Linked DNA regions of Homo sapiens. The protein of the gene in region 2 purifies or fractionates together with the protein of the main gene of each other region. This does not show direct contact. Each region holds a gene or a part of one and is shown on either strand. Other genes may lie near its edges.

Region 1 (4,231 bases), on a different chromosome or scaffold from region 2:
CTATGGCCACCTCCAGGTGGTATCTGGAGCTCTCCGTATCCTTGTCCCTGGAAAAAAACACTGTGAGAGGCTCAGAAGGACCCCAGCTCCACCAACCAACAAAGGCACAGTCCGTCCCACCCACAGCGGGACTGACTTTGGGGAGTGGGGCGCCAACAGAGCCCCTGGAATCTACCCAAAAGTGAACACACAGTCCTGGGGCAACCAAGCAAGCAGGAGGAGCAACGTGTTGTCACTTGCGCTGAAGAAGGCTCCAAGCGTCCCCTGCGTGGAGAACAGCCCCTCCCACCAGCACAGCCTCAGGCGCCTCAGGTGAGGCAAGGCCAGATCTCTGCCTGGGCACCCAGCTGCCCGCCCCTCGCTGCTGCTCACCTCAGGTGAGGCAAGGCCAGATTTCTGCCTGGGCACCCAGCTGCCCGCCCCTGGCTGCTGCTCACCTTTGCTGCCTGCTTCCATCTCTCAACCATGGCGACGGTCACAGGAACAGAATTCTTCTTCCCCTTCAGCCCTCTGGGGACTCTGTCCCCATCTTCTCCTTCCTCCGCTCCATCCTCCTCCTCACTGGCTTCCTGCACAGAAAGGCTGAGCTGAAGGAGAGTGTAGAGACAAGTGCCCCCCTTCTGGTTTGGCCCACGCCCTCACCTCCAGCACATCTGGCAGGGAGTGGAACGGCCCCTCTTCCTCCTCAGAGCTGTCCGAGTCGCTGAAGTTTAGCAGGCTCTGGTCATTCTCCTGCAGGAACTTGTAGAACTCGGGGTCTCTGTCCTTCAGCCGAGAGAGCTGGTCTTTGTGCTCAGAGGCACGGCCTTTACGCCGGCTGAGGAGGCAGAAGTCAGCGACCCCAGTGGGAAGTGGAAGTAGAGGGGGCGGGGAGTGGCCTACAGGGTCAGTCTACTCCCTTCACAAGGGTTACCAACTAGCAAGACAGGATTGCCAGGAGGTACGTTTTTGGCAGACTCACGTCTCCTACCCAACAACCTCTACAACATACCCTCAAACACACTACACAGGCCCCCCAGCCGCGGTCTTCCCTGGACTTGCTGTGCCTGCGCCCTGCGCTACACAGGCCCCCAGCCGCGGTCTTCCCTGGACTTGCTGTGCCTGTGCCCTGCGCTACTTTTGCCTGATGGTGGCTTCACCCTTCCAGAGGCTCAGACTAAAGGCAAATCTCTGTCTCTAATACCCAGCACGCAACTTGTCATCAGATCTCATCAGCAACACCTTCAAAACCGTTCGTGCCTCCTCTCAAACCACCACATAGTTCAATTCTCAGTTAACCTAAAGGTCTCTCTGTTTCCACCCTTGTCACCTACAAGGCACTCCACCGCTCAAACCCAGAAGTAACTCCCTGTTTTACGAGGCAATCTTATGACGGTCTACGGCACCTGGCTCTTCATCACCCTTCTGGGCTCATCTACCCCTATTCACCCCCTCACTCCTGCCGTAGCCACGTTTACCTCTGTACTCTCCCCAAATGCTCCCACTGCAAGGCTTTTGCTGTTTTCTGCTGCCTGAAATCCTAAGACACGTTTCCCCTACTGTCTGTGTGGCCTCCTTGTTCGAGGTCTTTATTCAGACGTCATCTTCTCAAACAACCACCTCCGCTTTTTTTTTTTTTTTTTTTTCTCCTGAGGCGGAATCTCACTCTGTCGCCCAGGCTGGAGTGCAGTGGCGCAATCTCCACTCACCGCAACCTCCGCCTCCCGGGTTCAAGCGATTCTCCTGCCTCAGCCTCCCGAGTAGCTGGGACGACAGGTGTGTGTCACCACGCCAGGCTAATTTTTGTATCTTTTGATTTCTTTCTTTTTCTTTTTGAGATGGAGTCTCACTCTCTCACCCAGGCTGGAATGCAATGGTGCCATCTCGGCTCACTGCAACCTCCGCCTCCCAAGTTCAAGCGATTCTCCTGCCTCAGCCTCCCGAGTAGTTGGGATTACAGGTGCCCACCACGCCCGGCTAATTTTTATATTTTTAGTAGAGACATGATTTTTCCGTGTTGGTCAGGCTGGTCTCGAATTCCTGACCTCAGGTAATCTGCCCGCCTCGGCCTCCCAAAGTGCTGGCATTACAGGCGTGAGCCACCGAGCACAGCCTCCGCTCCTTCTAACAGAGCAACTCGGCTCCCCTGCAACTCTCTCTTCAGCCCCTCTGTCCTTCCTTTCCCTCCCCAGCACTTATCTCTCTTCTACCGAACTGCAGGCGGTGATTTCACCCAAGAACGTGAGAGTTCTCCTAGATCGGGAAGAGATTTTTGCACAACTCACCAACATACGCTCCCTGCCTAGGACAGAGTTTGGCACGGAACAGGAGCTCAGTAAACATCGGATGAAAGAGTAAGTTAAGCTGAAAGGACTGGGGGGCAGAGGTCGGCGATCCTTAGGCCTTGGCCCTGAGACCCCAGGCGAGGTCAGCAACCCAACCGGGGTGGGACAGGACGAGCAAGAGGTTCTGCTCACGCATGTCCCCACTAACCTGGCCGAGGGGCTCCCGCCCGGCTTATCCGGACTCCGGGCAGCCTCGCGTGCTTCCCGTGTCTCCGCTTGTGGAGAATTTTCGGACTCGGATTCGGACTCGGAGTCAAAGCCCGAAGCTAGGAACTCGTCCACCGTCAGCTCCGCCAGGCGCCTGCGGGTCACGCAGGAGTCACAGCTGCCCGCACGCCCAGCTCGCCCCAGCCCCGCTGAGAGGAGCAAGAAAAGCCCCCTTGGATACAGACACCCACCGGGAGGCCAAATCGGCCCTCGGACCCGCGGCTTACCTCTTGCGGCTCCCCGCAGCTGCCATGACACCAACCCGAAGCGTGCACCCCACTTCCGGCCCCAGAATGCCGCGCGGCTGCGCACTTCCGCCGCCCAGGCCCCGCCCCTTTCCCCGCCCCGCCGCGCCACGCCCAGCCGAGTGGCTCTATGGTTCTCCGACCGCAACGCCGGCGGCCTCAGGGCGGGAGGGCGCGTTCGCGTGCTCGGTGCGGGCAGCCCCGGTGGGGCCCAGATGCGCCTCCCGCTCGGCGCCCGGCTCCGTAGGACGCGGTGACGCCGGTGTCCGCCCCGGGGAAGACCGGGAGTCCCGCCGCGCCCGCAGCCCACCCGGCGCTCCGAAGGCACGCGCCTGCGAGGACGCCAGACTGCAACGGCGGGGCTCCTATGCAAAGAGCTCCCACAAATCAACAATAAAAAGCAGGGAGTCCAGTGGAAAACGCGAGGGGCAGTGGGAACCGCACTGATGTCGCCAGCTCGACAAAAGACGGGCGACCCGAGGGCCAGGCTGGCTTCGCCTCCGATCCGCGGAGACCGGGCCAGCGCCACGAACACCACGCAGGGCGCTCCCCGTCCATGGCCCTCTGGGTGCCGACCGCGGCTCTTCCCGGGGACGCCGCACGGGACGAAGACGGTGGGGAGGCCGGCGCCTTCCTTCCCGCTACCAGCCTGACACCCGGGCCCCCGGGCCTGGACAGCCAGACCCCGCGACAAGGGCGCCGCGGGGCGCAGGCACGGCTCCCCCAGCCCTGGCGCTGAGGGGGCGCGTGAGGCGAACACGGGCGGATTGGCCTCGGGGTCCCATTCGACTTCTTGGTGCCGCGGGGCCCCGGGGCTCCCCGGAGGAGAGCAAGTTAGGGGGTCGGGGGAGCGGGGATGGCTTCCGGGGGAGGAGGAGGGCGAGGCCTGGGGGGCTCCTCGGAGGAGGAAGAGGGCGAGGCTTAGGGGGGCTCCTTGGAGGAGGAGGAGGGCGAGGCTTAGGAGGGCTCTTCGGAGAAACAGGAGGGCGAGGCCTGTGGGGGGCTTCCCGGGGAAGAAGGAAGGCGAGACCTAGGGGGGCTTCCCGGAGGAGGAGGAGGAGGAGGGCTAGGCCGGGGGCTTCCCAGAGGAGGAGGATGGCGGGGCCTGGGGGGCTTCTCGGAGAAGGAAGATGGCGAGGCCTAGGGGGGCTTCTCGGAGGAGGAGGAGGGCGAGGCCTGGTGGGGGGCTTCCCGGAGGAGGAGGATGGCGGGGTCTGGGGGTGCTTCTCGGAGGAGGAGGCGGACCCGGGGCGCAGCGCTGGAAGAATCCGCGTCCAACGTCTAGTCCCCGAAGCCTCTCGGGAGGCGGGGCGGGCGGCGCCGAGAAACAGCGGCTGCGGGCGGGAGCGGCGGGAGTGAGCGACACAGAGCGGGCCGCCACCGCCGAGCAGCCCTCCGGCAGTCTCCGCGTCCGTTAAGCCCGCGGGTCCTCCGCGAATCGGCGGTGGGTCCGGC
Region 2 (3,500 bases):
CTGAACTCTGGATACAGATCCCTGACTACCCCGTGCCCTGAGTTCTCTGGACTTTGTTTAGCTTATGATCTCTCTCGTGGATTCTGGAAATTGTTCCAGTGCCCAGTTTTCCTGATGTCCTTCACTAATTGAGGTTTTCTTGTTAAGGCACATTTCCTGGAACCTTGTCATTCTGAGTAAATCCTTTCTTCTCAAAGTAAAGAGAAATGTGTTATTGAAATATCAAAATTCTAAGGCATATTGTGGAGCAATATGTAAACAGTTATCAATGTATATTTAAAACTCACAGTAACCAGGTACAGTGGCTCCCAACTGTACTCCTAGCTGCTTGAAAGGCTGAGGTGGGAGGATTGCTTGAGCTCAGGAGTTCTAGGCTATACTGAGTTATGATCACACCACTGCACTCCAGTCTGGGCAACAGAGCGAGGCACCGTCTCTAAAAGAAATAAATAAGTAAATAAAAATTAAGAAGAAAAAGGAGCAAACAAAAGCAAAAAAACCCTCACAGTGTATTTTTGTTGCACATGTATATAAGAGAAAGCCTATAATACATTTAAAAATACTACATGCAGGATTTAAAAAATGTGGTTACATATGAGGAGGTATTGAATTTTGGAGGGACATAGTAAGGAAGCGAAATTTTGATTTATCTGTATTAGAATTTTTGGCAACAAGAATACATACACTATTTTCTTGGTAATTAAAATATTTAAATAATAATAACAATGGAATTAGTAGTTGTGTATTGTACAGATAAAGTATGTATGAGATGTAATGGCAAAAGGCTGAAATCTCAATGGCTTAACACACTAAAGGTTTATCTCTTATGCAAATAAACTTTGATATTAATTAATAGGGATTTTTTGCTGTCAGGTGTCCCAGGGATCCATGCTGCTTCTATACTGTGGCTCCATATCTCAGCATGGAAGAGAAGGCATGGAGGTGGCAGACTGGCTCTCAAACACTTTGATCTGAAAGGGAAAAGCATGCTACTGTTCATATTTCAGTGTCAAGGGGGGTAGTCACATGACCTTTCCAAACTACAAGTGGACTGGCAATGTAGTCTCCATATGAACCAAGGATAGAAAGCAAGACACAAAGTGGATGAGCACTTGCAGTCTGTCCAATTAACTATTATAATAGTAAAAGCTCAATAAAAGCTACTACTATAAATTTGTTATGAAAACACCCTTCTTAAGTCTTGGAGGAGTTTCTGAGAATATCAAATATCTTTGCTAAACAACAACATTTTCTAGTGTCTATATGTGACAGGTAATTTCAAATCCAGAATCACACTAATTTTCAAAACGATCCTGTAAATCTCAGCAAGGAGGGTTCACCCCGCTGCACTCAATAACACCTTTCTGCACTGACCTTTTCAATGACCTCTATAATCTCAAGAGACTGAAAAATTTCTTCCTTCTTTTGATGTATTGTTAAAAACGTAACTTGTGAGTCCTGCTACCCACCACCTGATGAACATGTACACCTGAGCACATGTACAGGTGCCCTTAGGCGCAATGAAAAACCAGGATTTTCCCTTGGCGCAGATACAGACAAGAATCAGGAGAATGATGGCGAATTATGGTTTTTCTTTTCTTATCAAAGCTGGCATGTCTGCCAGAGAGACATATTCTACCTCTGTGGTAGACTGAATAATTGCTCCACGAAGATTCACATATCCTCATTCCTGAAACCCATGAATATGTTATGTTACATGGCCAAAGGCACTTTGCAAATATAATTAAAATTATGAAACCGACCTGAAAATAGAGAGATTACACTGGATTGCCTACATGGGCCAAATCTAATTAGATGAGCCCTTACAAGCAGAGAAGTTTCTCCACCTGGAGGCAGAAGAGATATGCAGCAGAGACAGAAGTTAGAGAAATTCCAAGCGTGAGACAGGTTCAATGTCCCAAGTCTGACTCAAAAGTAGAGGCCCACATGCAAAGACTGGACACAGGCCTGGAGAAAATATGGCAGCTCCAACTGATAGCCTGAAAGGAGACTTACTCCTCACTCTTCTTACAACCACAAAGAACTGGGTTCCTCATATAATGACCTGAATAAGCCTGAAATGGGATTCTTCACAGTGTGTCCCAATAAGAAGCCAGGCTTTGACAGCTTGATTTGGGCCTGTGTAACCCTAAGCAAAGAAACCAGCAGAACCAACCCATACTTCTCACCTACAGAAGGGTGATCTAATCAATATGTTATTTTAAGTGTCTTACTGTATGGCATTTGTTATGTCAGCATAGAAATCTACTACATGCTCCTAGTACACCAGGATTTATAGGAATCCAATTTCTGGACATGGTTGATACACAGTTATTTCCTAGGTCCTTCCTTATCCACCACTTGAGACAGAGGCTTCGATATTTTCACCATTCACTTAAGCTCACTAGTGTATGGATTCAGTGCTAGTCTCAAATAAGTCACCAGATTACATTCTCCTCTCTTTCTAACTTCATCTGCTTTCTACACCTCCTCTCTAACTTCAGAGTTATCTTTCAAGGTTAGATTCTGTTCCAAGTCTGACCTGACTCACAGGCAGACTTGGAAAAAATCTTGAGTGTGGTGGAATTACTCAGAGCAGATGAGCAGGTATGTAGTGTTCACTGCCAAAGTAAACAATTACATGGAAGGGGCTGTTATCAGAGAAGTTCCAAGTGAGTGATGTGACAAAACAGAGGACATCTGCAGGGAGTTGGAAAGCTCTAAGTCAGGAGAAAGGAAGGAAAGTTATTCTGGGCTTTCTTTCCCATAGGGAGCAGGGTGCAGCCTTCATGGAAGGAAGCAGGGAAGAGCTGGACAGCAGGTAAGGATCCAGATTTGGGCACAAGGACTCACAGGGGCTGACTCAAGGAAAGAACAGTGTAATTTGGGAAGTGCTGGATCTGGTCCCAGGTGCCAGCACCTGGGCAAAATCAGCTCCCAAAGAACCCTGGAGCTAGGGGTGGATGGACCCTACGAAAATGAGGCCCACGGGCAGTCCCCAAATGGTGTTCAATTCTCATTTTCTCCATTATTTATTACATCTGGATTTAGTACACTGGCCCCAGGTTCCTTCTTTTTATTGCCTAGAGACACAGTGCAGTAGTGAGAAGAGAAATGAATTAAAAGACAGACATGTGCTTCATGCAGGAAGGAGTGCAACAGTGTGGGTTCTAAACAAATTCAGACTATGGTTCTAATTTTGACACTTAATGAACCACGTGAAGTCAGGAAAATTGCAAAGCTCTATGAGGCTCAGGCTTTTTGTGAAGTGACCTTGATAAGCCTTGCCTTGTAGGATTTCTGGGTTGTATGTAATGTATGAAAACTCTGGGAAAAGTGCCTATTATTTATTGCATATTTAATAACTAGCGTTTGTTACTATTATTAGTTTGACCCCAGGCCCTATTGAAATCTCTGTGATTGTTTTTAAAGCAAGAGATGTCCGAAAATATGCAGCACTCTATGATACAGCACACAAATCAACCAAAAATGCCGCTTAG
Region 3 (3,776 bases), on a different chromosome or scaffold from region 2:
TCAGCAGGGTCTGTAGGAAGAGGCTGTAGTGGAACTCCACCAGCTCGCAACTTGAGAAAAAGACAACCATCTTCTGGTCTTCCTCAAACTACATCGATACAAAGGGAGGAAAAACCGACATATTTTAAGATTAGGTGACGCCAAAACGAATATTTCTCTAAACTATACAGTCATGCTGACCCCCATTTGGAAATAAAGGTGACTATCTTTGAATTATTTAAAAAAACAAAAACAAAAACAGTGATACTCCACTCTACAAAGAATGCAGGAGAGGAAAACGACACAGCTATCATTTCAAACAGGTTTCCCTTATCTGACAAAAATAAACACACCTGGGAGCACAGCTGTGTGGGAGCTCCGTTCCCTTTATTCGCCCAGGGCTTGCCACATGCAACACTACCTGGCTGAGACCCTACATATGCAGAAAACCTTCACCCTTAAGCCCTTCCACTTACTATTTTCTCACATCTCAGAGTCAGCGCAGAAATCTAGTAAATAAATACACAAATGCCAAGACTCTTGGAGAAACATGAGCACAAGCCCCTACGTCTGCCTCACATCCAGCTGTTCCCGCCACCTGTGATGTTCCTAATATCAGTCCCAGGAAAGGTATCGAGAACATTTCAAGCTGAACATCATGGCTATCATTGACCTCTGAGTTTTTACCATAATCCTAAAACCTGACTGAAAGGATGTATATCAAAGTCTGCATCCGGAATGCAGACATAAGTTGGAAAACCTCTGATTTTTGGTGTCTCAACTCATTGCTCCCAATGGCTTAACACAAGAAAGCAGGCCTTTCTTCCCTGAATCAAGTCGGCTCTAGCCCACAGTCCCACCTTGCATTTCTGAAGGATGAAGGCCGCTAGGCAGACAAGCCTCAGTTTGCTGGGAACCACAGTCACATGCTGCTTGAGACTCTCTGGTATTGCAAAGCTGTCCAGCTTGTCGCCAGCTGGTGGAGGACAGACCTCCTGGACCGCTTTGTCCTTTGGGTTCAACTGGTCATGGCTCTTGTCCAGGACAGAAATACTGACTGGATCATGCAAACTGATATCAGCTAGCCGCGTTACACCTTGGATAAAAGTAAGAAGGGCAAAGCAGACAACAAACACACCATGAAACTGGTCACAAAAGCGTACCCCCATACAGCACCCACCCATGTATGTTAGGACTACGTATGTTACCCCATGGGTATCACCAAGTCCCAGCACTGATCCGCCCTAGTGCCAACGTGTGTGTTGCAGGGAGATCTACCAACGTATCTTTCCATAGCCATTCTATAAACACTCACCTATGGAACAGCGTCCAAAAGATAGCAACAGATACTGCGCCCACCCCCACCTCCCAAAAGGGTTCTTTGGTCAAGTAAGTTATGGCAAATCTTGGATTTCAAAGGTTTCACAAAAGCGTTTTTGCTATAAGCAGCCCTCTCAGGGCCTTTATTGTGTTAATGTGCCCTGAGAATATCCAAGGGAGGGATGTGGGGCATTTCTCAAACTTTCTTGACCACAGAATCCCTTCTTCGTGAATCATCCCTCAAAAATTAGAACATAGGGAACTGTGAGGGACCACATGCATGGCATCTGGTACATGCACATCATAATGTGGCCTAGTAAATCAAGGAAACCAGACAGAAAAACGTGAAAGCTGCACTGCTGGTCAATGACTCACTGTGTGGGGTGGATCTGGTAGAGTGATACAACTTTTCCAAGCCTTCGTGTTCCCAGTGATAAAAAAGAGAGCTAAGAATTTCCATCTCACATGGATGGAAGACAGAGAAGCGCTTCATTGATATATTTTTTAAGTTTAATAGCTCTATAGGAGGAAGAGTGATTACATTAAAAATGCACTCAGATAAGAGGTCATCATCTTCAGTGCAAGGGCCCTGCTCTCCATGGGTTGCAAGTGCACAAAAACCTCATGAAACCACCAAGCCAATAGCAGCCAGTCTTTTCTCGTCCTCATCCCTGCCCTTTCTCCCTTTCCCCATGCCCTGGGGAACATATCTGTCTTGGATGACTTGCAGAGGGAAGTTGGGAGTGTAGAACATAGAGTTTGAAAAGGCAGTCTTCTAAGGACAGCTCTCTCCCTGCCCCCACCTCCCTGAGGTTGAGAATCACTGCAGCAAACAACCCAGGTTAAATCTAGGTCCTTCCTCTTCATTAAGAACAAAGAAGGACCCATCACTTCTTTTCAACTCACCTTCTGTGAGTGTCGCTGATAGCAAGACATTCTGTCGTTTTTGGCATTCAGCATTTACAGCATTAAGTATCACTGTGATGTCCTTTTCAAAACCCAAATCCAAGATTCTGTGATTGTAAAAAAAAAAAGAAATTTTCAACTATATGAAGAGCAGATGTGGTCTAAGGGGCTACAGAAGTTGCAACAAGGAGAGGAGAAACAGCCCTTCTCTTCTACCTGTTATCATCCTGGGACGAGGCTCACCTGTCTGCTTCATCAAACACCAACCACCGCAGCCGACTAAAATGAATGTTCTTTGTGGATTTTATATGATCCACCAGGCGTCCAGGAGTTGAGATAAGGATATTTATTCCTTTGCGGAGTCTGTTTAAAATTATATATCATAAAAGAAAGTAAATCAAACAGGGCCACGCCAGTAGAAAACACAGGAAAAAGGCAAAATAGACAGACTCATTTCATGTACAGTGCAAACGTGCCATAGCCTGAAATCATGACAAAACATAAAAACTGGGTAGAAAGCTGTACTTGAGTCTTTCCCTGTACTGTGAAATGCAATTGTTAAGATCTGAAATTACATTAAAATCATAAAACTTTAACTTTGAAAGGGATCATAACTACATAATCCAATGCTCTTTATCTGACTCATAAATCCTCTCTAGAACCTTCCAAAGAGATTGTAGTCTAGCCTGTTCTCGAAGGTTTCTGTGCCAGAGAATCTAGTATCTGAGCAAGTGATTCCATGCCAATGTGCTCCAATTGCTAGGACACTTTTTTCTTATGCTAAGCCCTTTATGTAACTTCCATTCAACGGGGCTCAGCTTTGTCCCATGGGTTATATACAATAAATCTAATTTCTCATTCCCCAGACAACCATTTTCCTGTCAGTCCACCGTAATAAAAGCTTCCAATTTTTAGCACATTTTTTTTTTCTTTGTAGAGACGGGGGTCTCACTATGTTGCCTAGGCTGGTCTCAAACTCCTGGTCTTAAGTCATCCTCCTGCCTTGGCCTCCCTAAGTGCTAGGATTACAGGCATGAGCCACTGCACCCAGCCTAGCTGGATATATTTTCAAGCTTCCCTTGCAGTTAAGTATAGTCATGTTTGTTTTAGCAATGGGATAAAAGGTAAAGGGAACACGCCAATCACACAAGCACCTTCAGAGGGAGCAGGTATGAGCATCTCTGTACCCGCTGGCAAGAAATTAGATGCAATGGTTGGAGTGCCTGCAACTATCTAAGACTATGAGGTAATCTTAAAAATGGAATCCTCCCATAGTGGCACAAAAAGACAGAAAGAGCTTGGTCCCCGACACTGGAGCACCAGGCCAGCCTTGGACTGGCTCTGTCAGATTTCTTAAATGTGAAAGAAAAATAAAACTTGTATATTGTTTGTGCCACTGTTATTTGTTATTATTGTTGTTATTCACAGCTGAGTCTAATCCTAACCAATGCTTTGAGGTTTCAGGTTTCATATTTACTCCTCAGTTATAGACTACATGCATCATTATTGAGTACTGATTATTAAGCTATAATACAATAAAAATGTTTTCAAAAGAATGAAGACAATTTGAG
Region 4 (3,383 bases), on a different chromosome or scaffold from region 2:
TTTAAGCTGATTTTTCACCAGAAGTATAGTTTCTGCTGCCAAAGTAAAGTATAAATGTATTTGTATATGTGTGGAAAATAAATAATTTGTGACATGTATTGGTCACTTGTGCTCTGATGGGGATTAGACCCTTTGGTTATCCACACAAATATTTATCACATTCCTGGACTTTGTTTTATACCTAAAAGGTGGACTAAAAGCAAATATTCATATGCTGAATCATACCTTTCTCATTAAATAATCAAGCCTTAAAAAATGTGACCTCAGAACCACTTTTAAAAATCATATATAATATGCTAAAAGACTGACATACACTGTTAAGCTCATATCCTCTCACTCTGCTGGAATGGTAAAGGAATTTTCTACTTTCGTTTACTTCATGTGAAAAAAGAACTCTAAGCTCCAGAGTAAAATAACTGGCTGCTATGACTTTCAAACAGTAAGAGATCTCTTTAGTTGGACTGCTGTGCTTTTTTCAAAAAATTATCATATCACAAGAATAGGAAGCAGAAAAAAACAGCTGTTTTATTCAACTATTCACAATAGAGAATATTTATAATCTAGTCACTGAAACACGCATTTCTTAGGCCACTCCTAGAATATGGGAATAGCTGTTACATAAAATACTGTTTTATAATTATATTAATAAGAAAAAGCATTTTACCTGTTCCAAGAGGGGAAAAAAGCTCCTCATTGAGTATCCTTTGTCTCTAGATCAGAATGGTAAAGTCTTGGGCCTGGTTCTTCTACCCTGGAGCAATTCTTCCCCAGTCACCCTCCAGGGAATGTCAGAAAACGTGAAGAACTTTAGAGACTAGAATCATATTCAAACTTTCCTTGAAAGTAGCTATAATAAACACTAACACCTTTTTTAAAAGGCCAAATTAGGTAACTTCTTTAGGTGGATCATCCAGCAAAAGCCAATGAACCTGAATACAAGCTATTTTTTTCTTTTCTCAAATATCTTCATAAAAATATATTAACTCAAATTTAGAATGCTTCTCATTTCCATCCACAGTATTGAAATAAAAATATTTAAAGAGTATTTAGTTATAAAAAGTAGCTAAATGGTAAAATGTCTTCTCATGGTCTTGATTTTTCTGTGCTCTATGCCCTAATTTTAATATAGCAACTGCACTTCAGTAAGATCCAGTCCAAAGATTTTTTTAAAAAACTATAATGTACGTGAAGCTTTTAAAAGGCAGCATCATCAAGAAAGTAATTTCCAAATACTGGGGAGAAAAAAAGGCTTTTGATCTCCTTGATGGAATGACATATTCAGAATAGGGGCAGAACCCTGTGCCATGCAAAGGGTCATTCTTCCTCTTCTTCCTAGACATTCTTAGGAAGCTTTCCTTGTATAAAAAGAAAAGATCCTAAGTTAACAACTCATCTTTATGTACATCTGCACACACAAATATACAAGAAAGTCCACTGACTTCATTCCTCTACTAGTGTAGTGATGTTTTCAAATATTTCGTGAAATCCAGAGGCGATTCAGTAGCAACTTCACTGGAGTATCTTTTGATTAGCTGATTTAAATCTTCATTCAAAAATGAATCCCCTTGTAAAAATTTACCCTAGGAAAATATTTAAAGTATGAGTTAGAAGTTACTTATGCTATAAGCTAAAGCCAACCTGTGAACCAAGTTGAAAATGGCAACAGCTGACACCAACACATGCAACACAATGACAGATGCTTGGTAAGGTCTTGGACATATCCTATATTGAACGAACAGTTTCATGATCATCTCTATAGAATTTCAACCTCAGAAATCCATCCTATGATGAAATCCTAAACATTAAAAAAAAAACTACCTATAAAATAATTAAGCAAACTGGAGTTAGAGTTATTGAGATACATTGGTTTCTATTTCTTCCTTTAAAAAAATGAAAAATATCCCATACCTTTATTTTGGGGTTTGAAGATTCAACAGGAGGATTGAATGTCATTTCTGCCATGCTATATGCCTCAAAAAGTTCAGTAGCAGATCTAAATCACAAACACAAAAAATGTAAAGATACCACCACATCTGTGTAACTCAAAAATAATTAGATTATACTCAGAGAATGATTCATTCTTAACCCATATATTAAGGTATAAGATTTGAAACTAACCAACCAATCCAGTCACTTAACAAATTCTAAATTCCCATTGTAATGTCAACATTATCCAACTAAATCCACCTCAGAGAGGTTTGGTATACATTTAGCAATACAGGCATAGACTCCAGAGAGAAAGCTAAGCTGAAGAACTCCAGTTCAGTGTGATCAAATCCCAACCCACTGATAATGCAACTAAGTATATCTTAGTCATGGGAGCCAGAGGACTGAAGCATGGAGTCATTCTCCACAGACTTAGAACACAGCTCAACTCTTCAGCTACTGGCCTGGATGAAAAACAAGGAAAGGCCATTCAGGACAGAATACATGTCTATACCCATGGCGTGTAAATGAATCCTTAATGATTTGGAATTAGTTCACACTCGCCAAAACACATAGGCAAGGGCCTACGAAGGTAGCAATTAGGCTCACATCCCAATACCCACTCTCCAGAAGCCCACTATGAGTCTCCTTTCTTAAGCCTTTGGGATAAGCTCATTCCTCATCCTTCTCCACAAAGGAAACATCTTTCCTTAGCAAAACTGCTAAGGAAAACATGCCATAAAATAATCATTATGAAGAGTGACAAAGAATTGTTTTCTCCTTTTTTCCTTTTAAAAAAAAAGGCTGGTGGGGTGAAGACTGGGGACAGGTGAGAAGTGTGAGGGAAGAAAAAGTAAATGGCCATTTTATTTAATAAGGCCAAAAGTTATCTCCATCCTACTCAGAAGGAAAGGGCTCATGGAAAACTGCAGAGCTCTTGCCTCATGTAGAGGAGGCAGCAACTGACTGACTACTGTCATGTAAAATACAAGCCAATGTCACCAAACCTCCCAGTATTTCAAGAAAAGCGGGAAATGTGAATTTCAGATGAATTCTTTCAATATTTAAAAGACAGCAACTAATTCAATTTTTTTCAAACTCTTGAGGCCAGAAAAATCGGCCTGGCCCACAGGTCACCAAACTATGATCTCTGAATTACAGAAACCAATGGGCTTGCAAACGGAAAAAACCTACAGCAAAATATTAATTCTGGGTAATGAGTACATTGTAAGGTGCTATAGTTTCAATGTGTCCCCTCCAAAATTCAGATACGGAAACTTAACAGTCAATGTGATGGTATTAAGAGGCAAAAGCTTTAAAAGGTGATTAAGCCATGAATGGGATTAACCCATTTATGCCTACTAGTGTTCCATTATCAGAACACTAAGCTTGTAGGAGTTATTTATATCCTACTGCTCAAGGTCATCGCCAAGGTCTGATTTTTCACACACAAAAAA

Evidence for each region.
Region 1: the proteins of MAGEB10 (region 2) and NOC2L purify together in Homo sapiens (affinity purification with mass spectrometry; 2 studies listed by BioGRID and IntAct, with this or other methods). This does not show direct contact.
Region 3: the proteins of MAGEB10 (region 2) and DDX31 purify together in Homo sapiens (affinity purification with mass spectrometry; 2 studies listed by BioGRID and IntAct, with this or other methods). This does not show direct contact.
Region 4: the proteins of MAGEB10 (region 2) and NOC3L purify together in Homo sapiens (affinity purification with mass spectrometry; 2 studies listed by BioGRID and IntAct, with this or other methods). This does not show direct contact.

What each region holds. Positions count from the first base shown.
Region 1 is NC_000001.11:956,457-960,687, forward strand, and holds the start of NOC2L (nucleolar complex protein 2 homolog), read right to left. Parts: upstream 2,801-4,231; 5' UTR 2,785-2,800; coding exon 2,759-2,784; intron 2,626-2,758; coding exon 2,473-2,625; intron 818-2,472; coding exon 643-817; intron 570-642; coding exon 438-569; intron 1-437.
Region 2 is NC_000023.11:27,814,490-27,817,989, reverse strand, and holds part of MAGEB10 (melanoma-associated antigen B10), read right to left. Parts: intron 437-3,500; 5' UTR 288-436; intron 1-287.
Region 3 is NC_000009.12:132,645,984-132,649,759, forward strand, and holds part of DDX31 (ATP-dependent DNA helicase DDX31), read right to left. Parts: intron 2,569-3,776; coding exon 2,449-2,568; intron 2,313-2,448; coding exon 2,206-2,312; intron 1,076-2,205; coding exon 840-1,075; intron 89-839; coding exon 1-88. UniProt on the Homo sapiens protein: May have DNA helicase activity and RNA helicase activity. Probably have ssDNA and RNA dependent ATPase activity. Plays a role in ribosome biogenesis and TP53/p53 regulation through its interaction with NPM1.
Region 4 is NC_000010.11:94,332,726-94,336,108, forward strand, and holds the end of NOC3L (nucleolar complex protein 3 homolog), read right to left. Parts: intron 1,994-3,383; coding exon 1,909-1,993; intron 1,581-1,908; coding exon 1,452-1,580; 3' UTR 501-1,451; downstream 1-500. UniProt on the Homo sapiens protein: May be required for adipogenesis.